4 linked regions of the Homo sapiens genome follow. The protein of the gene in region 1 interacts with the protein of each later gene in a biochemical or structural test. Each region holds a gene or a part of one and is shown in the gene's direction. Other genes may lie near its edges.

Region 1 (7,675 bases):
TGAAATGGCCTAGTGAGAGAAGGAAAGTAAGCCGTTCAACTCTGGAAGAAGTAAAGGGTTGAAAGGAGAAGTGAAGACACAGGCCTGACCCTTAGGTAGGACCCCTGGCTCAGCTGTCCCAGTCCCCAGACATGGTGGGAGATTGACTCAAGTCAATGTACCTTACTGCCCTTACCTGAACATCATTACATTTCAATGTTGAAATTCCTGTTTTTAATTATATTCCAAGGGACCTAGAATAGATGGCATAAAGGGGCCTCCTTTCAGTTGTGTTAATCTTGGAGAACCCACATTAGCTTTGTTGCCCTGGGTTCCAATCTCAGAAGTACATGGAGAAATATGGCTGAACAGTTAAAAAGGGTGGAAAGGAGGATCCAAGCAAGATAAGGAGTTTGGACTTTGCTGTGTATTTCATGGGCGGCACTGGGGGGTTTTAAACACAGAAAAAAGGAGAGGTTTCAGAAAGGTCTCTCTGGCATCACAATAGAGATTTTTGAGGTAAAAGACAGGGAGAAAGAAAAACAAACAACAATAATCGTGGAGTAGTGATATTGACAGACTGAACTAAGAAACAGTGTGGATAAGAAACTTTATGCTCTACAGTACTGCAGTCAGCAGAATAATGGTCCCTCTAAAAAAGGTACCACAACTCTATCTCTTATTAGTAGTGTGATTTGGGGCAATTTAAAAGCCCTGATCCTCAGTTTCCTCATCTGTAAAAGAAAAAAAAAAAAGAATAGCAATGTCTTAAGTCAGGATCCCCAGGATCAAACCCTGAGATGAAGATTGTCTGCAAGTGATTTATTATAGAAATGCTACCAAGAAAAACTCATCAGGTACCACAGTAAGCAAGATAGGGAAGAAGGTGGTTTCAGGCAAAATATTAACATCAATATAATTCTATAGGGGAGCCTCAGGGTGTAAATTACACCTCAGGTTTTCTTGCTACTAGAGGCAAGACGGCTGGTCTTTTATACTCTATAGGAAAGTCCTTGGCAAAGGGTATCCTGGGAAAGAAGTAAACTTGCAGGTGGTTCTGTCTGGCTCTCTATGCCAGTACACAAAGTGAGTCTAGTAGTGTTTGGGCCTTCCTCCAAAGAGATTCTCGGGGCAGGCTGTGAGAAGTAAAAGAACACAGAAGCTAGAGGAAGGATACTCAGATTCAACCAAAGGGATCCTAGGAGATCTGGGTGGAGACTATGTCTGCCACAAGCATCTATCTCATAGAACTCTTCTAAGAACTGAATGCATTCATATCTTTCTTTCTTTGGCTTTTAGGATTCCTAAACTATTTTTCTTCTGGAATAGCATGCAATATTTAGCACTCTGCTCTACACTCAGAGTGCTCAGTGATGAAATAATTTTTTCTTGACATAGCATCAAATCCAAAAAGGGTAAAGGCAGTGGAGAAATTAAGCGAATATGAGGAATACCATAAGAGAAAGAAAAAAAATCTGATCCCAATTTCTGACTCCAAGGATAGTGCTTTCCTCAGGGTTCCACTTTTATCAGTTAAGATCCAGTCAAAGGGTATTGACTATTAGGACAGGAAAAAATCCCACTAAAGAATACAGTAATAGTGGTTATTGGGAACAGCCACTATCTCTCAGGCTCTAGGAGAGTACCCAAGGAGGGAATAACTGAGTAGAACTTCCCCCTACCCACCCTCCACCCTACTAAGCCTGAAAGTAGGCGCTCATTGGAAATAATATGGCTGTGGTCCACTTAATGATCCAGAAATTTAAGGTGTCACACACTGGGCTGCTGAGGAAACCATCAGCTGTGTTTTCAGTAAAACTTGCTAGGAAGCCATTCCACTGACATGCCAGTGGTACTCCATAGAAAGACACATACTAGGGAACTGGCCAAATTTACTGAAGATTATGTAACATGGCCTTCTTGCACACCACTGGTCAGAAAGTCACTCACTGGCCACCACACCGTAGGAGCAAGCAGGAAAGCACTGGAACCAAGAAAAGGAGCCCCTTTCTTTCTGCAGTGTTCCCCTAGCACCTTCTATTGACAAAGCTAAACACTGTGCCAACTGACCATAAAGACGTTTACAGATTTCAGCTCTAATGTCACAATTTAGGGCAAAGAAGGGTAGCTGTGAAGTTGAAGAGCACTAAGTTAACTGGCACTGACCTCAGTGACACTCCTGGGATTTGGGGGATGGGAGGAGCATGCTGTTATGCCCAAATCCTGCTCCGTTTGTTTACTTTTTTCCTAATTGTCTCTGAAAGAAAGAGCAGGCCCAATCTTTTGGGACACTATGTAGTGAGAACTGGTATGACACATCGTAAGTGCACAGAGAGTTCAATTCAGTAACTGAGACAAAGTCTAGAGCCGAACCACTTGGGTCTGAACGTTAGCTTCACTATTAACAAGATTTGTAGCCTTGCAAAAGTTCATCCTTGTATACCTCAGTTTCCTTACCTGTAAAAGGAGATAACAGTACCTATTTTATCAAAATGTCAGGAGAAATTAAGTATTATGTGTAAAGCCTATAAAACAACATCTTGCATGTAGTTAGAACCTAATAAATATTAGTATATTCCATGAATGGTAGCTTGTCATTTGGTTTTACAATATGTATATATTCGGTTCTCATGATGAGTTTCCATTTAGAACTATGCCTCATAATGCTAACACTCAACTTCTCTGGGTGAGATTAGGCTTTGCTATCAAGTCTTGCCTACTCCTGGGCATTGCCTGCAGCTCTGGCTTCAGATCCTGGCACTGCCCCTGGCTCACTGAATAAGCTTCAACTAGTGCAGCCAACTTACGGAGGATCTGTTTTCTCAAGTGAAAAAAAGACACAAGGTTAAACAAATCATCTTTTTTTAAGATCTCTTCCAGTTCTGACTACATTTGATCCCCCTCATCCCCAAGTAGTAAGTTATACCTAAGAGGGAAAGAGGAGGGAATTATCATTTCGAACTCCTACTCACCTGTGCCAGGAGAGCACTGCTGTGACTGATTTCCCTGATTTCATCCTCACCACAGTCCTAACAGATTAGTATTGTTAAAGTCCATTTAACAACTAAGAAAGCTGAGGCTCAGGAAGGTCAAGCAGTTTACTCAAGATCATATTCTCAGTAAGCCGCAGAGTCTGGATTGAAACCTGGTCTTTCTGTTTGGGTCGACTCAACATTTTTAACCGTATTGTTTGCCTCCTACATCGCCTTCATCTCAGACATTAAGAATCCTACCTATTCAATGCTTTTCATCCTCCGCTTTAAAGAGATAAGTGGGTGCACAACTTTTTTTTTGCCTGAAACATATCATCTAAAAGTTAAGCAAATGAAATTCATTTACCAGTTACAGGAATCTTTTTCTTAAATCACTGTTAATGTCTCACAGGAAATTAGCTCTTCAGTGGAAATCAGCAGCCTCCCTGCATCCTTTTGCCCCTGTCCTCCCCTCTCTTGGATGCAAACCTGGCGAAAAGAAGGGAACACTGCTTGGGGTCAGCGAGCTGAGTTCCAGCTCCGAATGTACCATTTTCACCCTCGGGAGTCTTCTCCCCTTTCTCTGTGAGCAAAGGAGTGTTGGGCCAGACCGTCTTAAGGATTCTTCCCCAGGTACAAGCCGGACTCTGGCGGCTTTCCTGGGCAAGGGAGTGTCTCCGCCTTGTCTCTGCCGCAGGTCCCTGGTTAAATTGTCAATTTCTCTGCGGAGGCTGCTCACTGCATCCGCTCCCTCCACCCCTAGCCCTGTAGACCCCTTCTCTTTCCCCTACTTGGGAAAAGTGAAGCCCCTTATCCTTGGATAGCCTTTCACCAGACAACCGCAGCCGTCCGCTAAATTCCCCTACTGGCGGGACGCGCGGGCGGGGGCCTGCCCCGGGGAATGCGAGGCTGCTTCCCTTCTGCGTAATCAGGGTACGCAGCCTCCAGTTCTCTAACTTTCTCCTTCTCTAAGAGGGAATTTCGAGAACTTTAAGACAAATAAGTGACTATATAGATGAAGACATGAAACCTCTCTACACAGTGAACTCCCCCACGCTACAAGGCTCCCAGGGATCCCAGGCCTTCTCCCGCAATGCCCCGCCGGGTCCCCCGCCCCAACTCCTTCTCACGGCAGGATCCCGCGCCAGGACGCTCGCAGAGCCCGAGATGTGGCACCAGGCGCGCCACAAGTCCAGGTCCCGCTATTTCTGCTCCATCGGAGCCCAGGTCGGAGGGAGTCAGCGCGTCCTCCTCGCACAGGAGCCTGGCGCGCGGCTCGGTCGCACAGAGGCTGAAGAAAGGTCCGCACTGGGCTCGAGGCCCTTCCTGCCGGCCTCCCCACGCCGGGCCTAGGCTCCCCTCCTTCCCGGCTCCCGCCTCCTCCCGTAGGCTGCCAGGCGGACCCAGCCTGCCTCTCTCTCTGCCTTCACTACCGGGTCAAGCTGCGGAGGGAGGGAGGGAGGCAGCGGCGAAGCCCTCCGTGGCTCCCCACCCGGCGCGCGCGCCCCTCCTCCCCTGCCTCCTCCCGTCTGCCAGTACAGTAGAACTAGTACACACACACACACACACACACACGCACACGCACCCTGCCACTGCAGCTGCCATGGATATCAGCTAACAACACACACCCAGGCGCGCGCGCGCGTTCCCACTCGCACCACGCAGGAGTGGCCCCCGGCATCCCTACCCTCCTTCCCCACCCCCACCACACCCGCTCACCAGCTCGGCTACTGCTCGCTCCGGCTGCCGCCGCCGCCGCCGCCGACGCCACCACCACTGCTTCCTCTGCTGCGGGGCCACAGCCTTGAGTGTCATTCAAGGGACAGCACAACCTCATCCAAGCTCTCCTACCTCTGCCCAGCCGTCCCTCTCATCCTCCCCATTCCTCGTCCACACTCCATCCAAAGAAGAGGGAAAGCACCGAATAGAGGGGGGCGAAGGCAAAGTCTGCTGTTCTTCCCCCTGGGCCCCCTTGCTCCTCCATCCTCATTCTCTCACCACCAGCCCCCCTAACCCCAAGGAGCCCAGGAACTGAGGCGACTCGCCCCACTGCCATGTCCAAAAGCTTGAAAAAGAAAAGCCACTGGACTAGCAAAGTCCATGAGAGTGTCATTGGCAGGAACCCGGAGGGCCAGCTGGGCTTTGAACTGAAGGGGGGCGCCGAGAATGGACAGTTCCCCTACCTGGGGGAGGTGAAGCCCGGCAAGGTGGCCTATGAGAGCGGCAGCAAATTGGTGTCGGAGGAGCTGCTGCTGGAGGTGAACGAGACCCCCGTGGCGGGGCTCACCATCAGGGACGTGCTGGCCGTGATCAAACACTGCAAGGACCCCCTCCGGCTCAAGTGTGTCAAGCAAGGTGAGAGCAGCGGCTTGCTCAGTGTTTTGCCGGGCGGTGGGACCGCTCGGGGCGCAGGGCAATGAAAGGGTGGCCGCGCATGTTGAAGGGGGTGTGTTGCGCGATGATGGGGTGGGGGCCAGAGAGCACCCGCAGTGCAAGTGAGTTTCGCCGGGGATTCGACTTGGGGGCTAAAGGGAGGGGAGGGGCAGGTTGTGGTGTGGCGTGCAACTTTGTTTGCTCAGTTAGACCCTCCCCTTTGGAAGGTGCTCGGCCTGGTCTGACCTCCTCAGAGCTGCTGGGGCAAATTGAATGTGCGTCAGTGGCATCACCCGAAGCGGATGAAGAGCTTTTGGGGAAGGGAGGAAGGAAGAAAAGAAAGAAAGAATGGGAGGAAGGGAGGGAAAGAAGGAAGGAGCAACTTCAGGGTGCAGCGGCATCACCAGCGGGTCTGGGAAGAGAAGGTGGTGGGGTGAGCGGAGAACTGCGTCCAGCGTTTCTGGGGCTGGGCTGGGGGCGCCTGGGTCCCCAGCTGTCCCTTAGGGATCCGTGAGCCACCGCTGGCGAAGAAAAGAAGGGACAAATTGCTTTGGGCGCTTTGACGGGTCTTCTGTAACTTTTCCCCTTCTTCACTCCGTGTCCCCCTCCCCCGCTCACGGTCGTGTCATGTGGGCATCGCGCGTCACGTGCGTACTGACTAACCCCTGCGCTCACCCCTAGCCAGCCCGGGGGAGGAGGCTCCGGAAGAAGGCGCGGTGCTAGGAGCGCAGTCTAGTGCTGGGCGGGGGTCGGAGGAGATGAATGGTTGTCGGAGGAGATGAATGGTTGTCCGCATGGACTTTACTCAGGGGTTGCCCTCATTGAGTGGAAGTCCTCTGTGGTTGGGCTCTCCTCTGGCTCCGATTTGGGGGGCGTGTTTTGGGGGAGGAGCTGGATGAAACCCTGGCCGGTTCCAGCCCAGGCTCCCTCAGCTCCAACCTGACTTAAATGAACCTCAATTGGAGGCTGTGATGTGGATTTGGGGAGATTGGAATCATCCAGAACTCCCTGTCTTTGCTCGAAAGAAAATTATGGTGCAGAAGGAGAGAAGAGTGAGATAAAAGTTTGAATAGAGGACAACTTTAAGTAGAATAAAGTAGTAGCTTTTTTCTTTTCTGTTTTCTTTTTTAGCTCACTGCACAATTCGTGTGCGGTATGTATGGATATTTGCGTCACAGGCATATTAGCATAAGGGTTTGTTGTTGTCGTCGATGTACACTGTTTGTCCTGACTCAAAGGTGGAATTGAGCATGTCATTACCTGCATTTTGCCGCTTAATCATGATCAACTACTAAGAAATGCTTTTACGGAGATGTACCGCACTGTTAAATTATTCTCTAAAAAACTTGTTTTAAAATAAACAAGATAAAAAGAAGTACTGGGCAAGGTTTCTTAAATGTAAATTGCCATACAAGAAAATGTTTTCCTTGGGTATTCTTGAGTATTAAGAGGTAATAAATTGAGATAGGTTATTATAAGTCAACATAGCTCCATACTATTTAACACTGAAGGGATATGAGTTTGGTAGGAAGGAAAATAGAGTAACTTGATATTTTTGAAGATAAGATACCTAAGGTTCAAATACAGAGATTCATGTTAACATGTTCGATGTCAAAATACCACCTTATAGGAATAGACATAAATGGAAAGATCTTTGGGTACGAAAAGTCTACTACACAACTAATGACCATGGTTTTGTTGGCCAAATGCTTGATATTTGTCATGGAACGTGGCTGCAAAAGTTAAGCGTTGTTAAATTGGACTTAATAGAGTCCCACAAACGGATGCCCTATTATAGTTTGCAATGATCATCACATCTTAAATGTTGTGTTCAATTCTGAGCACTCCTTGTTGAGGCGGACGTTGGCAAACTGTCACGCTAGCAAAGAGTAAGTTCAAAAGAGAAATAAAGGAAGATTATTGTGTATTATAGATGTATTCTATGAAATGCCGTGGAAAGACTTAACGTGGAGAAGTGAAAGAATGAAAGCTATCATTAAATAGCGAAAAGCTATCAGGTAAGAAAAGGAATTCTGACTATCCTGTGATAGCCCACAGGACAAAATGGTGATAAATCTATGAGAAATTTGAAAGGATGAAGCAGCTTTACTTTCATTAAATCATGAGCTTTCTAACAGAGTTTTCCAAAAATTTGTGAGCACCCTGTTGGCTGAAGTTCCCATCATTGTGGGTATCCATGAAGAGGCTGAAATGACCATATGCCAGGGATTCCTATATAAGATGAGGACCTGGATTAGATATTATTTGAATCTTGCCATAATTTGATCTAATGTGGTTGGAGATCACTCTTGTATTGAATTTTATGTGGAAGATTATTGCTTTTAGAACTC
Region 2 (7,020 bases), on another chromosome or scaffold:
TGCCACCTTTAGAGGTCTTTCCTTGATAAAGCCCTATAGAATTTTCCCTAATATCTAACTACCCTCAAATGATAACTAAGGAGCCAGGGGCAGGTGGTGAGTTGGAATAAGATCTGGCTTTAGTGTTAGGCAGCCCTGTATTCAAATCCTGTCTCCACCTACTAGCTAGACTTACTAGCTCAATGACTGTAGAGCTACTTAACTGCCCTGAGCCTTAGTTTTCCCATTAGCAAAACGGGGCCCTAATAGTACTTGCCTCACACAGTTGCTTCAAGGATTAGCAAAAAAGATAGGCAACACCCCTGCGTGGTACTGCTACCACCCTGCAACACCCGCCCAGTCATCAGAGAGAATTGGGTGGAGCACCTCCTCTGGGCTGAACCCAACTCCCACAGCCCTGTGGTAACACCATCACCCACACGGCCACAGCTGAGGGGCCCTGACCACTATTTCTCTATTACAGCATCCTTCTGGATGAGGAGGGCCACATCAAACTCACTGGTGAGTGGAGGGCGCCTGCCCCCTCGGGACCCAGGGGAGGACAGGACAAGGTCATGATAGGTCTCGGCTGAGTGCTGGGGGCTCATTCTTCCCGAGAAGCCGTGCCAGTTACTTGGAAGTGGTCAAAAACTCAGGCCTCAGACTTGGAACACCCTCAGCTGGAATCCCAGCCCCTCATTGTGTAACGTTGAGCAAGTCACCTGACCTCTCTGGGCCTTAGCTTCCTCCTGAGTGTCATGGGGGTGATGCCTTCTGGCCTCTGGGCACGGGGGTTGGGTGTGCAAAGGGTGGCAGCAAGGAAGGCAGGGGTCCTAAGGTGTGTCCTCCTGCCCTCCTTGCTGTAGACTTTGGCCTGAGCAAAGAGGCCATTGACCACGAGAAGAAGGCCTATTCTTTCTGCGGGACAGTGGAGTACATGGCCCCTGAGGTCGTCAACCGCCAGGGCCACTCCCATAGTGCGGACTGGTGGTCCTATGGGGTGTTGATGGTGAGTGCCCAGACAGGGGTAAAGGATCCAGCCCAAGCCTCTGGCCTCAGTCTCCCTATCTGTACAGTGAGGGGGTTGATCATTTCTAGGGCTCTCCCCGTCTCCTCTCACAGCCAAGCTGGCCTCACCCTATATGCACCTGCAGTTTTCTTCCTTGGAAGGATCCCAGGCTTGACCCCACCTGGGACGCGCCTAACCCAGTGCTGGCCTTCTCCCCAGCCTCGCGCCCCCACCGCTGCTCCTGGTGGTCTGGTTGGCAGAGGCAAGAGGGACGGGCATAATTCTTGCTCCAGGCTGACTTGGATGTATCAGCAAGAATCCTGGGACTGGGGCAGAGGGGTCTGACTGGGAGGAGGCGGGAGGTGTGTCGGAGACAGGGATCAGAGCCTGAATAGATCCTTGTCCTCTGCAGTTTGAGATGCTGACGGGCTCCCTGCCCTTCCAGGGGAAGGACCGGAAGGAGACCATGACACTGATTCTGAAGTAAGCCCCAGCCCTGCCCTGATAACAATGGACTCCTCCAAGCCCCAGCCCCAGTTTGGGGGTCAGAATATTATTACCCTGTCCCTGCCTCAGCTACCCTCTCTAATGAGACTCTCCTCTGGGTTAAACATTATACCTTCCAGAGCCCCTCTTTCATCCCTGGGGGCCTGTGGGTAGGATCCCTGAAGCCTTTGGGAAGTGAATTAGTGGATGGCTTGTCTAGACTGAGCTGGGAACTAGATCTGGACAGGGGCCGGGGGAGATGGGGCCTCTGGGGCAGGGCTCAGCCTTGATGAGTCCCGGGGGCTGTTTCAGGGCGAAGCTAGGCATGCCCCAGTTTCTGAGCACTGAAGCCCAGAGCCTCTTGCGGGCCCTGTTCAAGCGGAATCCTGCCAACCGGCTCGGTAAGCAGCCCCAGCTCAGGGGAGGGGATGTGGCGATGGGGAGCCGGGTACAGCTGCAGCCTAGGCCACAGGGCCACATCTGGGCTGAAAGGGGCCGTTGTCCTTTGTGTGGGCAGACAATGCCGCGGGCCACCCTGCTTTCTGGCTCCATGTGTGGTGTTGTGGAGGGGGGAGTTGACCTGTGTGTAGGGGGAAGGCAGGAACTGAGTCATCCCTACTCCCTCTGGGGACAAGGACAGAGGCCCCCACACAGCTTCTCCGCCAAGGCTGCTGGCACAAGAGAAATAGCATGAGCTCAGGAGTCAGAAGGCATAGGTCCCAATCCCGGCTCTGTGTCAGGTCCCCACTGCCTGGCACAAAACAGTCCCTCTATAAATATTTGTTAAACGAATGAGGCCACTTATGAACTAAGTGACCCCAGGCAGGTGACTTCACCTCTCTGCACCGCAGGTTCCTCGTCTCAATGGGAGATGATGATCCCAAGCTTGCTTCAGGGCTCTGTTGATGAAATGAGGTTGTGTGAACATGCCGGCATGTAGTAGGTGTCCAGTGTGTGCTGGCTTCCCTGGCTCCTGGGTTCATCTGGTCCATGACCAGCTGTGTAAGGTCCAGTCAAGGCCCCTGGGGTCGAATGGAGTAACAGCCTGTCCTATGGTTGAAAAGGTCAATGGGATAAGAGGAACAGAGATGAGGCTTGCCTTGGAATGAGGTGGGGCTCTCTGTAGGTCTCAGAACAAGCTCAGCTTCTGTTCTAACTGTGTGGCCTTGGAGAAGTTGCCTAAAGTCTCTGGGCCTTCCTCCTCCCACTGGTACATTGGAATTTCTTCATCAGAAGCTCCAGAAAGTGGAAAATGCTGAGTAGGTGACAGGCCTTAGGGTGATGGCTGGGTAGATTTGAGGCTGAGTGAGCCCATTTTCCCCTCTGCTCCAGCAGCTGGTCCCAGAGCCCTGTGAGGCTGCTTGGTGGGCAGGGTAATATCTGGGACTTGTGCCAGCCAGGGACAGACCCTTCATTTGGGCTCTTTCAGGCTCCGGCCCTGATGGGGCAGAGGAAATCAAGCGGCATGTCTTCTACTCCACCATTGACTGGAATGTGAGTGTGTCCACCCACACCAGGGCTCTGGCCAGGGCTCAGCCATCTTGGCCACAGGAAGGGTGGTGGGAGGGGAGCCTCTGCCAGCGAGGGCCCCAGACGCAGGAGCAGAGGGTCACAGCCTGCCCTTGAAGACAAGGGCTGGCCTCCTGAGGGCAAGCAATTCCGAGAGCTGGGCAATATGGCCTATGTTCCAAGCCCAGCACCTCCTCCTGCATGGGGCTCCTGGTGGGCTGTTGAGGATGCCATGGTGACCAGAGTGCCCACCCCACTGTGCAGAAGCTATACCGTCGTGAGATCAAGCCACCCTTCAAGCCAGCAGTGGCTCAGCCTGATGACACCTTCTACTTTGACACCGAGTTCACGTCCCGCACACCCAAGGGTGCGTCCCTTATCTGTTTTGTCTGTCTTGGGCTGGTACAGGAGGGAAGCCGGGAGTCGGTGGCAGCTTGGGGGGCAGAGATAGTCAGGGACACTGACAGGCCGAGGTATGCGGGTGGGCAGGCGGGTGAGTTTCTGGCTCCGTGGGACTGACTTTGTCCCTGTCTCACTCCGCCCGACTCTCTCACTATGGGGCTCTGTGGGTCTCTTTGTGTCTGGTGAGAGAGTGGGAGTGGGGATGTGTGGGTGGTGAAGGCCACAGTAGAAAAGCCAGGACCCCTGCCCGGGGCACCTTCCAGCCCACTGGGAAGACCAAACACATCAGGCTTACCATCACGTCAGGGAGAAAGAATCTGACCCAGCCACACTGTGTGGTGGCTGAGCAGAGGTGACAGTGCCCATAGGTCAGGGACAGGCATGGGAATCAGCTTTGGCTGCCCTGACTGCCCGGCCTCCGTGTACTTATCTGGAACAAGGGCACAGCCACAAACCCACTCATTCCCTGGGGTTGCTACAAGAAGCCAGTGAGGGAGCTTCTGGGAAGGAACCTGGTGAATCCTAACTTTTTGGCCAGATATTGACAGTGGGTGTGGGGTGGAATGTTCTGGGAAACCTCCTATAAGGGCATGTTTTAGGAGAGGGTGTGCTTTTCTTCTCTCCTCTCCTCCCCTCCCCTCTCCTCCCCTCCCCTCCCCTCCCCTCCCCTCCCCTTCCCTCTCCTTCCCTTCCCTCTCCTCTCCTCTTTTCAAGATGGAGTCTCGCTCTGTTGCCCAGGCTGGAATGCAATGGCGTGATCTCAGCTTACTGCAACCTCCACCTCCTGGGTTCAAGAGATTCTCCTGCCTCAGCCTCCCGAGTAGCTGGGATTACAGGCATGTGTCAGCACGCCTGGCTAATTTTTGTATTTTTAGTAGAGACGGGGTTTCACCATGTTGGCCAGGCTGGTCTCGAACTCCTGACCTCAGGTGATCCACAAGGGGGTGCTTTTCTCACTGCACTTGCACGCCTCTGATGACAGAGACAGCACTTCTCCAAGCAGTCCGCTGGGCAACGTGACAAGTGCAGCTTCGTAGGAGTCAGGGGCCGGAGGAGCAGCATCAGGCAAGGCTTCTCAGAGGAGGGAGCGTGCGAGTTGAGTCTTGAAGGATAGGCAAGGAGTGGATTATCTAGTTAAAGGGAACAGTGTGTGCAAGGGCTCAGAGACCCCTCTAAGGATCTGAGAAGTCCAACATGGCTCAGCTGTGGTATGGAGAGAGAGGAGGTGAGGATCACAGGGCCCTCAATTGCCAGACTCAGGAGCTGGACTTACTCCTGAAGGCAGACGGGAACCTTTGAAAGGTGTGGGCAGGGTGGCAGATTTGTGGTTGGAACCTTCCCTCTGGCTGCTGTGCAGAGATGGACCTGAAGGGGCTGACGTAAGATGGGGAAGCTGGGGAGGAAGCATCCAGGAAGGGATGAACTGTCTTGGCCTGGGATGGAGGTGGATGTGAGAGTCTTTTTTGTTCCTCATGCGACAGGACTGGGCTGGTCTAATAAACACATATGAGCAGTTGGGCCAAGGCCTGTGATGGACAGGCCCTCTGCAGGCTCCCGCCACGGCCAGCCCCTGAGGCAGGTCTGGAGGCCCTGTGCTCCCCCTTTGCTGGGCTGCCTCAGGGTCGAGGGGACCTCCTCAGGTACCCTCACATTCTCCTTCCATCCGTACAGATTCCCCAGGCATCCCCCCCAGCGCTGGGGCCCATCAGCTGTTCCGGGGCTTCAGCTTCGTGGCCACCGGCCTGATGGAAGACGACGGCAAGCCTCGTGCCCCGCAGGCACCCCTGCACTCGGTGGTACAGGTGAGGGGGGCAGGGGGCTGCTGCTCCATTATCCTTTTCTAAAGAATGGCTGAGTACACAGGCTCTGAGTTGGACAGAACCAGGTTCATACCCTCATGCCACTGTGGGACCAGTAGGGCCTCCAACATAAAACAGGGACAGTAAGGCCCACCTCACACAGTGGCCCTGATAATTGGATGATGATATGGGTGTACATTTCCCAGCACAGAGCCAGGGTCTGGGTACATGTCAGGAGGTGCCCAGGGTGGTGGTGCCGAGTGACTGTCGTGTCTCCGGCATAAGTGTAGCGAAGGACTTGGATCTCATCACACTTGTTCCCCATTTGTACACTTCTACTGCTAATGAAAGTTTCAGGTTGAGAGGCAAGAATGTAGACTGTGGAGCTCATTGCATGGGTTCCAGATTCACAAGATAATGGACTTTGGGGTTTTTTGTTTGTTTGTTTTTGAGACGTAGTCTTGCTCTGTTGCCCAGGCTGGAGTGCAGTGGCACAATCTCAGCTCACTACAGCCTCCACCTCCCAGGTTCAAAAAATTCTCCTGCCTCAGTCTCCCGAATAGCTGGGACTACAGATATACACCACCACACCCAGCTAATTTTTTTTTTTTTTTTTTGTATTTTTAGTAGAGACGGGGTTTTACCATGTTGGCTAGGCTGGTGTCAAACTCCTGACCTCAAGTGATCCGCCCACCTCAGCCTCCCAAGGTGCTGAGATTACAGACATGAGCACCTGACCAGATAATGGACTTTGGATGAGATACTCCCTTCCTCGTGCCTCAGTTTCCTCATCTGTAAATGGGGGAAATGATAGAAGCTTCCTCCATAGAGCTGTTATGAGGATTATTAGAGTTAATACATGTAAAGTTCATGTGGGCTGGGCACGGTGGCTCATGCCTGTAATCCCAGCACTTTGGGAGGCCAAGAAGGGTGGATTGCTTGAGGCCAGGAATTTAAACAGACCCATCTGGCCAACATGGCGAAACCCCGTCTCTAAAAATACAAAAATCAGCTGGGCGTGTTGGCGCGTGCCTATAGTCCCAGCTACTTGGGAGGCAGAGGTTGCAGTGAGCTGAGAACGTACCACTGCACTCCAGCCTGGGCAACAGCGTAAGACTCTGTCTCAAAAAATAAATAAATAAAATAAAAAATAAAGTTAAGGTGACTATGTAATTTATTTTCCAAACTGGGACATCTTAGTCCAGGACAAATATTAAATCAGACTGGATGCAAGGACCGCATGCGCAAGCCAGGGCTGGCCGTGGGGCATGCAGTCACCTGATGAAAGTGCTTAGAATAGTGCCTGGCACACAGCACACACTAAGCACCATTCAGCATTGCTACGGCTAATGTCCCAGAACCTTGAGACACCCCATGAGTTGAGCTGTGACACCCCAGAAAGGGAGGCAGGCCACTCAAAGCCGTACTTAGTGGCACAGCTGGAACTCAGCTCAGGGCTCCTGCGTCCCTCCCAGGCCTGCCCAGACTTTTCAGAACTAAAGTCCTCTCCATGTGTGTTGTGACCCTGTTTCCCACTCCCTACACTGCCCTCTGACCACAGGCTGCAGTCCAGGCAGGCTGGGAGCCAGTGAGTATGCCCATTATATAGAGTAGAAAACTGAGGCCCAGAGAGGGGCAGGCTGTCACCTGCGGTCACATGGCCAACACTCTACCCCAAGTCTCCTGGCCCTTCCCTGGTGCTGTCTCTACTGAGCCAAGACCTTAGGTCCTGGGGGATGACCCCTAGCACTCTAGAGCCAGGGGTCAGCCACAATTTTTGGTCTCCTACAGCAACTCCATGGGAAGAACCTGGTTTTTAGTGACGGCTACGTGGTA
Region 3 (7,195 bases), on another chromosome or scaffold:
CTTGCATGTCTCCTTTGGAAAATCTCTTACCTATGTCTCGTTTTATTTACTACGAATAGGTATGATATACATTTATCTCATGAGCCTACCTTGCTTTTGTAAAGTATTTTGAAATGTTTATGTGAAAATGTTGAATAGGTGGTAAGAATATGGATTATTGCTGTAAATTATAAGCAAGAGTGAAGATTGTAACTACTAAAACACTCAATTATGTCTCAAGTGTATAAAAATGAGAATATTTTAATAAATTAAATATCATATATTTATGAATCAAAGCTAAATGTTCATTAATATCAAGTAAATATCAGTAAACATGGGAGATATAAAAATGTATGAGACAATTCTGGCTCTCAGTGAGCTTACAATCTATAAGAGAAGAAAAGGGGAAAATATAAAAATTAAATAACAACATAAGAAGTATCAAAAGGCAACCTATTGTAAATTGCCACCTGAAATGAAATTGGCAGAGTCACTACTATAGGTCAGAGGAAGGAGAGATCATTTTCAGAAGCAGTGGGCAGAGAAGATAAAGAGTCCAGCCACATCTCCAAGGCTGAATTCGCTGGGAAGCAGGAGGAGGTTTTGGTGGAGGGAACCCAGTGAGAAAGTATAGATGTACAAAAGGAAGGAGTATGGATCCCCAAAAGGAAAAAGAATACAGAAATGCAAGTTATGGTGATAAGGAGAGTTCTAATATGAAATAGGGCTGGAAAGGCCATTTAGAATTGGACCGGGGAGAACTGTGAATGTTAAATTGAAGAGGTAAGGTTGCTGAACAGAAAAGCATCTTGGTCAAAGCAGCATTTTGGAAATACTCCTTTGGTTATGATATGCCAGATTAAATGGAGCAGGGAGGACCAGAGACAGGGAGATCAAATAGAACCCATGGCAAGTCCCGGTGTGGGGTGAAGGTGGGGGGATGGGAAAGGAAGAAGTTGAGATAGGAACTCTGTGGAAGAAGTGCACGACCTCTCAAGTGTGCTGATCAGCCCTCATTGTTGGAGCTTTCTGTCATTTTCCAAAGCATTGTGAAATATATGGGTTTTTAGAACTGACTCTCTTTAACAGTTGCCAAGTGAAGAATGAAGAAATGAAGGAGTTTTATTTAACTTACAATATCCGATACCTGTAAAAGTTGATACGTTGAACCTTTTCTTCTTGATCTTGTATCCTTACCTAAGAATAAAAAGTGTTAGGCTAAAAAAAAAGTTAAAAAAAAAAAACACCAATCATAAAATGTAGGAATTAAAGGAGTTCTGAGAACATTTTATTTTTATTAGACAACCAACTCTAGTTGAACATGTACTATTCCAAACTCTTCTGTCAGTAAAATTGAAGGAAATCCCCCAGAATTCCTGAGATCCCTGTACTGGTACTCCTGCTAGAATAACCTTCTGGTTTCGAGGGTTTATAATTTAATGTATTATACAGAAATTCGGAGAAACTTGATGTATCTCTGAATGAGCAGAGAAAAAAAGTTTCAGGAAAGTTTTCCAACAATTCCAATGTCACGATGTGTTTATATATATAATGATGATACGGCAAAGTTACTGGCAATCTGGCTTCTGCCCTGAACCTCTACGACCAAGTTCTGGCCTTATCGCACACAGAAAAGCAATGCCTTCCACCCTTCGGGGGCATTTAAGGTTGACACACTCTATTCCGGTAACACCACTTGACAGAAAGATGGCAAGGAAAAGCCTCTTCCCCACATTCCCTATGCCTCACCCTGCAGCTCAGCACTCAGAACTCCTTTCCTGGGCAGCGTCAATTTCAACTTCTTCCAATCCCTTGGCTATTTTGAGACTGCCCCTTGTGGGTCCAGAAGGAAGCCAGGAGGCCGGGGACAGTGGCTCATGCCTCTAATCCCAGCACTTTGGGAGGCCAAGGTGGGTGGATCACCTGAGGTCAGGAGTTCGAGACCAGCCTGACCAACATGGTAAAACGCCATCTCCACTAAAAATACAAAATTAGCCGTGTGTGGCGGCACACGCCTGTAATCCCAGCTACTTGACAGGCTGAGGCAGGAGAATCACTTGAACCCGGGAGGCAGAGGTTGCAGTGGGCCAAGATCACGCCACTGAACTCCAGCCTGGGCAACAAAAGTGAAACTCTGTCTCAAAAAAATAAAAAGAAAGAAGCCAGGAGTCTCAGGCTTTCAGTGACTTGGATAACTTGGGGTGTAGTCTCCTTCCTCCCCTTTCTAACGCCTCTTGTTTCCTGGCCACTCCTCCTCAACCTCCCCAAGTTGGAAAATCAGCTGATAAATCATGGGCAGGGGGTGAATAAACAAATCACTCCCCAGTTTTAACATACTGATGCTGAGGTTTGGGCCTAAAGCAAATTCATATGTTTGCATTTATGTAAGAGAAAGTGGTTAAAACTGCTTGATTTTATATAAACTTGAAAAACATTACTTTTTGCTTTTGACCTGGACAGCTGTGGAAGTCGGTCTCTCCTTGCAAGGTAAGGATATGAGCTTGGTCATATTGATGACCATCAACGAACATGATGTTCGTTACGGGCGCTGTTCTTATTCCAATGCTAGAAGGACCTGTGAGCATTATATAACATTTTCATGCACCCTTACATAAACAATTAGAAGCTGTTTACTCCTCAAGGACTCAATTAGAGATTTTTTTAATTTTTTTATTTTTTTTTTTATTTCAGGCCTGAGCTGAGGACACTACAGGAGCCAAATTAGAGAAGGGGCTTGCAGTCCTGCCATATTGCATATTCATGGCTTTCTTGTCCCCTCACCCCCAGTATAATCCTTTTTGCCAGGTTAACAACTCACTAATTTCAAAGCAATTCATTTGCCAACTCAAAAAAAAAAAAAAAAAAAACCACAGATACAACTTTAAATGCTTTTGGATTTTAATCCTCTGGAGTATTTATATGTTTTCTTGTCTCATCCCTTCAAAACTAATCTCAGAGTTTTGAGAATCTGGGAACTTGGGCAAAGGAGAAAACAAGCACGCAGACCAAGGAATCTGAAATCGCAGTTCATTACGTCAGCATAAACTGACAGTACCTTTTTGTTTGTATTGACCCAGCTCAAATTATAAAATCACATGAGTAATAAAACACAAAATACAGGTGTTATCATTGAAAAGTCTAAAATGTAATTAAACGCGTTTTTTCCCCCTCGCGGTGGTATCGTTTACTCTGTATCTCAACGTTTCTGTCTCCCTAAGCCTCTCCTTTCATATCATGAGCATACATTTTTGCATCATGCTCACACGTTCATTAGCTAGGACTGAGGAGTGTGTACGATTCCAAAGGGCCCTCAGCGTTAGCTGTTAGATGCACAAACCTTCGCTTCCTTTCCACATCTACTGCACTCGAGGTTCAACAGAGGATCCTTGCAAGAACAGCGCCCAGAGAGCATTCTTGACAGATGCGCGCTTGGCTCCAGCAACCCGCTCTGCTGGGAAGTTTCTTCTAACCACTAACACCCACCTCCAATCCCCCAAGCTGTCACGACGCATGCTGGCTGGGTCCCGTCTTGACGGGGGAAGGGTTTTACACACACCCTGCTAGGCTGCCCCACATCACAACCAAGCTCGCAGGGCAAACTCCTCCAAGCCTGGCGGACAAGCTGTCCCAGGCGCTCTGGCGCTTCCTGAACACCAAGGTCCCCTCCCCGCTCAAGGGAGCTAGCGCTCTGTTCCGCAGAGAACCCCGGAACTGCAGGTCGAGGGGATGCGGGGGGAGCGGGGGCGCAGGAGGGAGCCGAGTGCTGGAGGCAAACGGGGCGCAGGAGCGGGTGCGGGAGGCAAACGGGGCGCAGGAGCGGGTGCGGGAGGCAAACGGGGCGCAGGAGTGGGTGCGGGAGCGAGTGGGGGCTGAGGGAGGGGACGGGGCCCCGGGGGGAGCCAGGCGCGGAAGGGGGCGCGGGGGAACAGGGACCAGGAACCAGCGGGCGCAGGAAGGGGTGCGTCCGCAGGAACCCGCGGGCGCACGGGAGGCACTAGCTACGCGATCAGCTCGGGACTCTCAGGAGCCGCTCAATTGCCAACGGGAGGGGGGTGCGGGGAGTTGGAGGTGGGGGTGCAGACCAGACGGGGGCGTGCCTTTGCCCGGATTGGCTGCAGGAGCCTGACGCGAGGCCCCGGGGGTTGGCTTGGGGAGTGGGAGCGGGGTGGGGTGGGTGCTGGGTGCCGGAGCTGCGGGCCCGGCGCGCTCAGAAACATGCTGAAGTCCCGGCGGCTCTTCCAGCAGCGGCAGCGGCTCCAGCAGCAGCGGCGGCGGCGGCGGCGGCGGCAGCGGCAGCGACAGCGCTCGGCTCCTGCGGGAAAGGCGCCCGGCGCCCATGCCTCCGGCCCCGCGCCGCGGCTGCCCTGACCCGGCCGCGACCTCCCTCTGCGCACCACGCCGCCCGGGCTTCTGGGGTGTTCCCCAACCACGGCCCAGCCCTGCCACACCCCCCGCCCCCGGCCTCCGCAGCTCGGCATGGGCGCGGGGGTGCTCGTCCTGGGCGCCTCCGAGCCCGGTAACCTGTCGTCGGCCGCACCGCTCCCCGACGGCGCGGCCACCGCGGCGCGGCTGCTGGTGCCCGCGTCGCCGCCCGCCTCGTTGCTGCCTCCCGCCAGCGAAAGCCCCGAGCCGCTGTCTCAGCAGTGGACAGCGGGCATGGGTCTGCTGATGGCGCTCATCGTGCTGCTCATCGTGGCGGGCAATGTGCTGGTGATCGTGGCCATCGCCAAGACGCCGCGGCTGCAGACGCTCACCAACCTCTTCATCATGTCCCTGGCCAGCGCCGACCTGGTCATGGGGCTGCTGGTGGTGCCGTTCGGGGCCACCATCGTGGTGTGGGGCCGCTGGGAGTACGGCTCCTTCTTCTGCGAGCTGTGGACCTCAGTGGACGTGCTGTGCGTGACGGCCAGCATCGAGACCCTGTGTGTCATTGCCCTGGACCGCTACCTCGCCATCACCTCGCCCTTCCGCTACCAGAGCCTGCTGACGCGCGCGCGGGCGCGGGGCCTCGTGTGCACCGTGTGGGCCATCTCGGCCCTGGTGTCCTTCCTGCCCATCCTCATGCACTGGTGGCGGGCGGAGAGCGACGAGGCGCGCCGCTGCTACAACGACCCCAAGTGCTGCGACTTCGTCACCAACCGGGCCTACGCCATCGCCTCGTCCGTAGTCTCCTTCTACGTGCCCCTGTGCATCATGGCCTTCGTGTACCTGCGGGTGTTCCGCGAGGCCCAGAAGCAGGTGAAGAAGATCGACAGCTGCGAGCGCCGTTTCCTCGGCGGCCCAGCGCGGCCGCCCTCGCCCTCGCCCTCGCCCGTCCCCGCGCCCGCGCCGCCGCCCGGACCCCCGCGCCCCGCCGCCGCCGCCGCCACCGCCCCGCTGGCCAACGGGCGTGCGGGTAAGCGGCGGCCCTCGCGCCTCGTGGCCCTGCGCGAGCAGAAGGCGCTCAAGACGCTGGGCATCATCATGGGCGTCTTCACGCTCTGCTGGCTGCCCTTCTTCCTGGCCAACGTGGTGAAGGCCTTCCACCGCGAGCTGGTGCCCGACCGCCTCTTCGTCTTCTTCAACTGGCTGGGCTACGCCAACTCGGCCTTCAACCCCATCATCTACTGCCGCAGCCCCGACTTCCGCAAGGCCTTCCAGGGACTGCTCTGCTGCGCGCGCAGGGCTGCCCGCCGGCGCCACGCGACCCACGGAGACCGGCCGCGCGCCTCGGGCTGTCTGGCCCGGCCCGGACCCCCGCCATCGCCCGGGGCCGCCTCGGACGACGACGACGACGATGTCGTCGGGGCCACGCCGCCCGCGCGCCTGCTGGAGCCCTGGGCCGGCTGCAACGGCGGGGCGGCGGCGGACAGCGACTCGAGCCTGGACGAGCCGTGCCGCCCCGGCTTCGCCTCGGAATCCAAGGTGTAGGGCCCGGCGCGGGGCGCGGACTCCGGGCACGGCTTCCCAGGGGAACGAGGAGATCTGTGTTTACTTAAGACCGATAGCAGGTGAACTCGAAGCCCACAATCCTCGTCTGAATCATCCGAGGCAAAGAGAAAAGCCACGGACCGTTGCACAAAAAGGAAAGTTTGGGAAGGGATGGGAGAGTGGCTTGCTGATGTTCCTTGTTGTTTTTTTTTTCTTTTCTTTTCTTTCTTCTTCTTTTTTTTTTTTTTTTTTTTTTCTGTTTGTGGTCCGGCCTTCTTTTGTGTGTGCGTGTGATGCATCTTTAGATTTTTTTCCCCCACCAGGTGGTTTTTGACACTCTCTGAGAGGACCGGAGTGGAAGATGGGTGGGTTAGGGGAAGGGAGAAGCATTAGGAGGGGATTAAAATCGATCATCGTGGCTCCCATCCCTTTCCCGGGAACAGGAACACACTACCAGCCAGAGAGAGGAGAATGACAGTTTGTCAAGACATATTTCCTTTTGCTTTCCAGAGAAATTTCATTTTAATTTCTAAGTAATGATTTCTGCTGTTATGAAAGCAAAGAGAAAGGATGGAGGCAAAATAAAAAAAAATCACGTTTCAAGAAATGTTAAGCTCTTCTTGGAACAAGCCCCACCTTGCTTTCCTTGTGTAGGGCAAACCCGCTGTCCCCCGCGCGCCTGGGTGGTCAGGCTGAGGGATTTCTACCTCACACTGTGCATTTGCACAGCAGATAGAAAGACTTGTTTATATTAAACAGCTTATTTATGTATCAATATTAGTTGGAAGGACCAGGCGCAGAGCCTCTCTCTGTGACATGTGACTCTGTCAATTGAAGACAGGACATTAAAAGAGAGCGAGAGAGAGAAACAGTTCAGATTACTGCACATGTGGATAAAAACAAAAACAAAAAAAAGGAGTGGTTCAAAATGCCATTTTTGCACAGTGTTAGGAATTACAAAATCCACAGAAGATGTTACTTGCACAAAAAGAAATTAAATATTTTTTAAAGGGAGAGGGGCTGGGCAGATCTTAAATAAAATTCAAACTCTACTTCTGTTGTCTAGTATGTTATTGAGCTAATGATTCATTGGGAAAATACCTTTTTATACTCCTTTATCATGGTACTGTAACTGTATCCATATTATAAATATAATTATCTTAAGGATTTTTTATTTTTTTTTATGTCCAAGTGCCCACGTGAATTTGCTGGTGAAAGTTAGCACTTGTGTGTAAATTCTACTTCCTCTTGTGTGTTTTACCAAGTATTTATACTCTGGTGCAACTAACTACTGTGTGAGGAATTG
Region 4 (7,020 bases), on another chromosome or scaffold:
TTCTGCGGCTCAGGTGAGAAGACCCCAGCACTGCCTCCTCCTGTCCCCAGGACCTAGAGCAGAAGCAGGGTGGAGAAGTGAGAGGAGCAGCTCTAGGTTGGGGTGGGGGTTGCTGGGAGAGGGTGGCAGGGGCTGGCTTATCTGAGAGTCTCAGGTCTCTGGGAACCTCTGGCAGAGCCGCTCTGCCCTCTCCCCAGTAGCTGCTGGAATGGTGGGGAGGGACAAAACTTGTCTTATGTCACCCATACCCAGGCCAGGCTGCACCCATTGGGGTGACCAGGCAGATGGAGCCCTGGAGGTGGGGGCTCCATGGAGTGGTGCCCCATTTCAGGTTCGAAGGTACCTGGGCCCCAGCACTACCGCCAAGGATGCAGGTGGCAGAGCCGGGGATGGGGATGGTTGGGATCAGGAGCCGAGCATCAGGGCTGGAGGCTGGGAGCAGGGCTGACCCCTGTGACTGTCCATCCTGGAATGGCAGGGAGTAGAAGGCACCCCCAGGGGAAGCGGGCATCGCCAGGAATCCAGCTGCCCTGGTCCATGGAGCACAGGCTCCATGGAGTGCCAGGCTCTGCCTGGGGCTTATGTCTGGGTGGGCTGCAGGCAGGAAGGGCTCCATGGGGCATTAGGAGAGCCTGGCTGTCACCTCCCTGTGTGACTTGGCCAGTCAGCCCCACCCTGTGCCTCAGTTTCCTCATCTACACATCTGGGCTGGGGTGATGGAGGTGGCCTACCCCTCATCCTCTCTCTCCTATCGCTCCCATCATCCACCCGCCCTGCTGCACCAGGAGCATCCGGTGCCTGCGAAACATCATCCACTGGAACCTCATCTCCGCCTTCATCCTGCGCAACGCCACCTGGTTCGTGGTCCAGCTAACCATGAGCCCCGAGGTCCACCAGAGCAACGTGGTACGTCCTGGCAGGGGAGCGGGGAGCAGGTCAGGCCAAACCCAGGTCAGAGGAGGGGCCCGCCTGCCCTGCAGAGGAGGAGCCCACAGAACAGGAGTGGGATCCCAGGGTATGCCCTGTCCTGCCCTGGGGAGGCCCAGGCCCAGGGTTTGGTGCCTCCCCTGCCCCCCATCATCATCTCTGGTTGGGGGTGGGGTGGCAGGGCTGGTGCAGGTTGGTGACAGCCGCCTACAACTACTTCCATGTGACCAACTTCTTCTGGATGTTCGGCGAGGGCTGCTACCTGCACACAGCCATCGTGCTCACCTACTCCACTGACCGGCTGCGCAAATGGATGTTCATCTGCATTGGCTGGGGTGAGCTGGGCAGCCACCTCCGCAGCCTGGGCAGTGGCGGCCGCCGGGCTGCCCTCTCCTCCAGACTCAGGCCAGCGGGCTGGGGGGCCTGAGGGATGGAGGTCGGGTTGGGGCGGTAAGGTGTGCACGATAGCCCTCTGCTCCTCTTGGGGGTGGGCGGCAGTAGAAGCACCTTGAAGGAGGTGTGTGAGTTTGAGATCCACCCTGAGTAACCCCAGACCCCCTGGAGCCTGGGCTGCACTGGGGTTCTCCAGGCCCACATCCTCCAGCCCCCGCTGAGGGCTCTGTGACAGCCCATCTCTCCCCCAGGTGTGCCCTTCCCCATCATTGTGGCCTGGGCCATTGGGAAGCTGTACTACGACAATGAGAAGTAAGTCATCTCCTTTCCCTTCCTGACCCCAAGGTTTAGGCTCCCAGCCCAGCTTGGTGACACTCCCCACGGGCATTGGCCATGCTGGCTTTTTCCCCTCAGGACCATGGTTTCTGCATCTATAAAGGGAGAGATCTGGGGGCTGGACTCATTCAGAGGGTCCCTGCCTGTGCTCTGCCTGGGTGGGGCTGGACAAGCAGGACCCAGCCTCCTTTATCTGCCTTGAGCTTACACAGGAAGCAGCCTGGAGCCAGACTGCCCAGGTTCAAATAGCTGTGTGACCTTGGACAGATTACTGCAGTGTGCCTCAGTTTCCTCATCTGTAAAATGGACATGCTACTGCCTCAAAGGGCTGTTGTGGGGTGATATGAGTCCATCTATATTAAGCATTTACAATAGCTCCTGGCACATAGAGTAAATGCTATATAAATGTGTTCTATTAATATTAAGACATCTTAATAAAAGAGTCCATGAATTTAATAGAAGTGGACCTAGATGATCTCAGAGGCTTCTTCCAGCTCTGAAGTTCTTTGGTTCCTTATGAAATGGACTCAGATGTTTCCAATCGTGCCTGGAAACTTGATTTCTGCTGCAGTGGAGCTCAACTTTGGCTCACATTAGAATCACCTGGAATGCTTGGAAAAGTACCAATGCCCAGGCTTCACCCTCAGAGAATCAGGCGCAATTGGTCTGGGGTGTGGCCTGGCACCCAGAAGTCTTGAAAACTGCCCAGGTGATTCTAATGTGCAGCTCAGATTGAGAACCACTGAGAGAGAGCGGGGCAGAAAAGGTGGACATGGATGGCAGGGGAGCCCCAGGACCTTCTTTGCCAAACAAGTGTTCCCGGGAACCTATCTGACTGACGGACCTGGCGTCCAAGTGGCCTCCACCACAGTGACAAGCCCTCTCCTCCCCCATGGAGGGGAGGGGGCCTGCACGGCTTCATTGGGCTGAAAGAGGAGCCTGGAAGATTATCTTGCGTGTTTATGTGGTTGACTCCCTCCTGACTCCCTCCTGACTCAGGCTGGCTGAGGCCTTGGGAAGCCGAGGCAGGCGGATCACTTGAGGTCAGGAGTTTGAGACCAGCCTGGCTAACATGGTGAAACCCCGTATCTACTAAAAAAAAAACAAAAAAACAAAAATTAGCTGGGTGTGGTGGTGCGCACCTGTAGTCCAGCTACTCGGGAAGGCTGAGGCAGGAGAATCTCTTGAACCCAGGAGGCAGAGGTTGCAGTGAGCCAAGATCGTGCCACTGCACTCCAGCCTGGGCAACAGAGTGAGACTCCATGAGTCTCAAAAAACAAAGCAAAACAAAAACTGTTTGGGCTAAAGGAGAAAGTGAGTCTGAGCGGCTCTGAAGCTCCACCTGGTGGTGAGAATTCAACACTGCAACAGAGAGGATCTGGGTGTGAGAAACCAGAAACGAACTTGCAGACCAGAGGCCCGAGGACTGGACCCGGCCCTCAGAAGCTGTGTGTGGCCAGCATGGTGTTTTCTGAAAACTCGATTTTGTAGCCAACCTTTAAAAAATCCAAAGGTTTCATTTACAAATCTCAATTTCTGGCTTATGAGATCTAGCCACTGGGGGTCTTCATACCCACGAGGACATAAGGGCTTCCAGTTTGTCTGGTCCCCACCCACTCCCCAGGCCTCCCTGGAGCTTGCTGGAGGGACACTCGGGAAAATGCAAAGCAATTACCTCCTGCAGCAGGTAGAACCTGTGCAAGTATTCCTCTCAAGGTTGTTCAGGCTGTGACTGGACAGATTCAGGCTGAGATTGCGAACTGCTGGGTGCCCACTGGGTGACAGGTGTGGTGCCACTCCCACCAGCAGCCCCCCAGAGGGCATGCTGGGCCTCAGCCACTGCCAGGGGACTGTGAGGAGGAGCCGAGGATGCAGCCTCGTGTTGGGCCCATGCCCGTTCCCAGCCACTCAGTCTTTCCCACTGTCTACCTCCTGCCCCGGTGCTTGCTTCCAACTTTGCATCTCATCACAGAGGATGCTGTCCGTTCTGCAGATGGGACAATTGAGGCATGGCAGTGGGATCAAGTGACTTGACCTTCTGCCAGGGTTGGAATTGGGACATCTACCTCTTGGCCTCCAGCCCCAGTCCTGTCCTGGCCAAGCACTGTCCCTCCCCATGCCATCGAGGTGGACGCAGATGACCCTTCCTCCCCTTTCCTCTGTGGCCTTCTAGGTGCTGGTTTGGCAAAAGGCCTGGGGTGTACACCGACTACATCTACCAGGGCCCCATGATCCTGGTCCTGCTGGTAAGAACCTGGGTAGGGGCAGGAGACAGGGCCCAGTGGGGAGGGGCAATCAGTGCCAACCGTGGACAGAAAGGACTCCTCTACCTAGAGGTGGGGGCCACCCAAAGAGGGGGCATGGGTCAGAGATGTGCAGGTGCTCATGAGGAGGAGGGAGAACAGCAGGGGCACTGAGGCCAGAGCTGAGAAGCCTGGGTCCCAAGCCTCTTGCACACTCCGGCCCGCTGGTGTGCTCAAATTGCAGATCAATTTCATCTTCCTTTTCAACATCGTCCGCATCCTCATGACCAAGCTCCGGGCATCCACCACGTCTGAGACCATTCAGTACAGGTAACCGGGTACCACCTTCCTCAGGCCTCCCCCTGATGAAACCCCTGCTCCCCATGCCTCTCACGTGCCAGAGACCTGCCACTCCCTCCCCCGACCTGGCCCTCTTTGCCGAGCCAGCGGGCAGCCCGTCCTGGGGTGGGCTGTGACTCCGAGCCTCCCCACCCGCCCCACCCCAGGAAGGCTGTGAAAGCCACTCTGGTGCTGCTGCCCCTCCTGGGCATCACCTACATGCTGTTCTTCGTCAATCCCGGGGAGGATGAGGTCTCCCGGGTCGTCTTCATCTACTTCAACTCCTTCCTGGAATCCTTCCAGGTACAGCCCTGGAGGGACACATCAGCACCTCCTTGGGTGGGGATTCTGCCAAGCAGAGGCCTGGAGGGCAGGAGGCCAGGGAGAAGCAAGGGGCAGCCCAGAGGCTGGGTGGGCAACACCTGCAGCCGACCTTTGACGCCTCCTCTCTCCTCCCCAGGGCTTCTTTGTGTCTGTGTTCTACTGTTTCCTCAATAGTGAGGTGAGGACCCGGGGGCCCTGCAGCGGGGTTCAGGGCTGTGAGGCCTGTTGGGACTGGCGATTGTCTAGAGCCTTCTCCTCCCCTCCCAGGGCTGCCTCTCTCCCTCCCTGCTCCTAGGTCCCTAGGGGTATGCTGCTGGGAGCCCCAGGGTGGCCCCTCCCACCTGTCCACTCCCACAGTGACAGCCCCCTCCTTTGCTCTCAGAGGCCGCTGGCACCAGGCTGGAAGCCAGAGCTCCAGTATCTTTGATGAGCCTGTGAAAACCAGGAAGGGCTGAGCCCTGGGCAGGGGATACATGTGGGTTGAGGGCAGGGAGCCTTCATGGCAAAGGGCATATGGTGCCTTCGTGTGGGTTAGAAAAGGGTGCCCCTTCCCCAGGACATTTGAGAAACCTGTTCCGACAAATATGCAAAGCAGTCGTGTTAAGGCTGTGAGTGTCATCCCCTACTGAGGACTTCCATGTACTCAGCTGACCTGCACAGCCGCTTACCTGCACAGCTGCTCGTGGCGGCCCAGGGGAGGGAGGGGGTCCTGAGCCACAGGCTCAGATGTCGTGCTCCTCCCTGTGCCCACAGGTCCGTTCTGCCATCCGGAAGAGGTGGCACCGGTGGCAGGACAAGCACTCGATCCGTGCCCGAGTGGCCCGTGCCATGTCCATCCCCACCTCCCCAACCCGTGTCAGCTTTCACAGCATCAAGCAGTCCACAGCAGTCTGAGCTGGCAGGTCATGGAGCAGCCCCCAAAGAGCTGTGGCTGGGGGGATGACGGCCAGGCTCCCTGACCACCCTGCCTGTGGAGGTGACCTGTTAGGTCTCATGCCCACTCCCCCAGGAGCAGCTGGCACTGACAGCCTGGGGGGGCCGCTCTCCCCCTGCAGCCGTGCAGGACTCTAGCTCATGAGTGGAAAGTCACCTACAGGACTGGGCCGGGCCCAGGGCCTCTGGCTTCCCTGCCCAATCCTCCCTGGAGAAGGGACATGGGAATGAATTGAAATGGGGCGCTGGACACCTACAGCAGCACGCATGTCCCTCCAAGGCTGTCTTCTCCCAGAGCACAAGAAGGCCAGCCCACTGGGCCCTGGGGCTGCCCTCGGCAACCGTGGGGAGGCCATTTGCTGCCCTGGGGCATCATGGGCAACTCGTGACAGCCTCTGACTCACCACGATGACGCCTCTGGACCTCGGTGATGCCTTCCGACACCACTGGGAACCAAGGGCCCTCACTCAGGAACCCTGGAGACAGAAGTCAGGTGTCATCATCAGACTTGCGGCCACAGCACTAGAGTCACCCCCCCAGGCCTCCAGAACCTTACTGGCACTGTGGCACTGCCACCAGCAATGCCCTGCCTTGCTGCCTTCACCCTGAACATTTAGTACCCTGCAGGCCAGGCCAGCTTCCCCTCACTTAACCACCCCATACCAGTCACCTCCTGCTCCTTTTCCTCTTTTGTGAGAAGATGGGGGCTGGAGGGGGCAGAGTGGCCTGTGAGCAAGAGCCAGGGGTGTCCCAGTCCCAGCCTCTGGGGCAGAGCTTGTAGCCCTGGATGGCCTCTGGGGCAGGACCACTAGCTAAGCAAGCCAGGAGAAGACCCCTGCCCAAGTGGCTCTTGGGACAACGTGCTGCTTACACTCCAGGTGTGGACCGGCCGCAGCCCCCACTGACCTGCCCATGTCCAGAGGGACTGGACAGCCAGGGCAGGGCTTTGGGGGGCACTAGAAGATGAGGGTGTCGGCTGTGAGGCGGGTGGCTGGTATAAATAATATTTATCTTTTCAACCAGCATTTGTGAAGGCCTGGACTCCACAGGGGGCTGGATGGAGAGGGTGTCTCACAGAGGTGGGGGCTGCTTCCCAGCTTTCAGGGGCTGCTGTGTTGCTGAGAAACCTGACCCCACTCTCACCCCGGCAAGGATGGTGCCAGGAGAGCCCCTGAGGGCCGGGAGAGGGGTGAGGGCAGGAGGGAGGGCTTCGAGGAACAGGTGGGTCTGGCCAGGGCCCCCTTAGTTAGGGACAGCTTGTTGTGAGGAGGTGAATTAGAGGGAGAGGAGGGCCACGGTTAGGGATGCAGAGGAGGGACACCATGGGTCAGGGGAAGGAACAAAGGAGACGGGAGTGTGTCCCAGCCCCAGGCAGGAGCTGTGCTGATTGGTGGGAAGCAGAATTAGGATGCTGGGCCACTGGACAGGCTGTGAATGCAGCTGTCTCCACTAGGGCCGCCACAAGAAGCCATCCCTGAGACCCTGAGGTTTCTTGTGCAAACTCGAGGGAAGGGGAGTACAGAGA

The links.
Region 2: the proteins of MAGI2 (region 1) and RPS6KA1 interact in a test that uses a peptide from one of them, tested with the Homo sapiens proteins (2 studies listed by BioGRID and IntAct, with this or other methods).
Region 3: the proteins of MAGI2 (region 1) and ADRB1 interact in a test that uses a peptide from one of them, tested with the Homo sapiens proteins (4 studies listed by IntAct, with this or other methods).
Region 4: the proteins of MAGI2 (region 1) and CRHR1 form a complex in vitro, tested with the Homo sapiens proteins (2 studies listed by BioGRID and IntAct, with this or other methods).

What each region holds. Positions count from the first base shown.
Region 1 is NC_000007.14:79,450,651-79,458,325, reverse strand, and holds the start of MAGI2 (membrane-associated guanylate kinase, WW and PDZ domain-containing protein 2), read left to right. Parts: upstream 1-4,658; 5' UTR 4,659-5,005; coding exon 5,006-5,306; exon of another isoform or gene 5,307-5,369; intron 5,370-7,675. UniProt on the Homo sapiens protein: Seems to act as a scaffold molecule at synaptic junctions by assembling neurotransmitter receptors and cell adhesion proteins. Plays a role in nerve growth factor (NGF)-induced recruitment of RAPGEF2 to late endosomes and neurite outgrowth.
Region 2 is NC_000001.11:26,553,751-26,560,770, forward strand, and holds part of RPS6KA1 (ribosomal protein S6 kinase alpha-1), read left to right. Parts: intron 1-463; coding exon 464-501; intron 502-791; exon of another isoform or gene 792-843; intron 844-845; coding exon 846-988; intron 989-1,400; coding exon 1,401-1,471; intron 1,472-1,786; coding exon 1,787-1,875; intron 1,876-2,903; coding exon 2,904-2,968; intron 2,969-3,247; coding exon 3,248-3,350; intron 3,351-5,056; coding exon 5,057-5,187; intron 5,188-6,975; coding exon 6,976-7,020. UniProt on the Homo sapiens protein: Serine/threonine-protein kinase that acts downstream of ERK (MAPK1/ERK2 and MAPK3/ERK1) signaling and mediates mitogenic and stress-induced activation of the transcription factors CREB1, ETV1/ER81 and NR4A1/NUR77, regulates translation through RPS6 and EIF4B phosphorylation, and mediates cellular proliferation, survival, and differentiation by modulating mTOR signaling and repressing pro-apoptotic function of BAD and DAPK1.
Region 3 is NC_000010.11:114,039,678-114,046,872, forward strand, and holds the start of ADRB1 (beta-1 adrenergic receptor), read left to right. Parts: upstream 1-4,188; 5' UTR 4,189-4,455; coding exon 4,456-5,889; 3' UTR 5,890-7,195. UniProt on the Homo sapiens protein: Beta-adrenergic receptors mediate the catecholamine-induced activation of adenylate cyclase through the action of G proteins. This receptor binds epinephrine and norepinephrine with approximately equal affinity.
Region 4 is NC_000017.11:45,829,309-45,836,328, forward strand, and holds the end of CRHR1 (corticotropin-releasing factor receptor 1 isoform 2 precursor), read left to right. Parts: coding exon 1-13; intron 14-252; coding exon of another isoform or gene 253-339; intron 340-785; coding exon 786-906; intron 907-1,108; coding exon 1,109-1,262; intron 1,263-1,571; coding exon 1,572-1,632; intron 1,633-3,829; coding exon 3,830-3,902; intron 3,903-4,143; coding exon 4,144-4,229; intron 4,230-4,405; coding exon 4,406-4,541; intron 4,542-4,698; coding exon 4,699-4,740; intron 4,741-5,315; coding exon 5,316-5,456; coding exon of another isoform or gene 5,457-5,505; 3' UTR 5,506-6,520; downstream 6,521-7,020. Other genes in the region: LINC02210-CRHR1 (CRHR1-IT1-CRHR1 protein), read left to right, coding at 1-13, 786-906, 1,109-1,262, 1,572-1,632, 3,830-3,902, 4,144-4,229, 4,699-4,740, 5,316-5,505.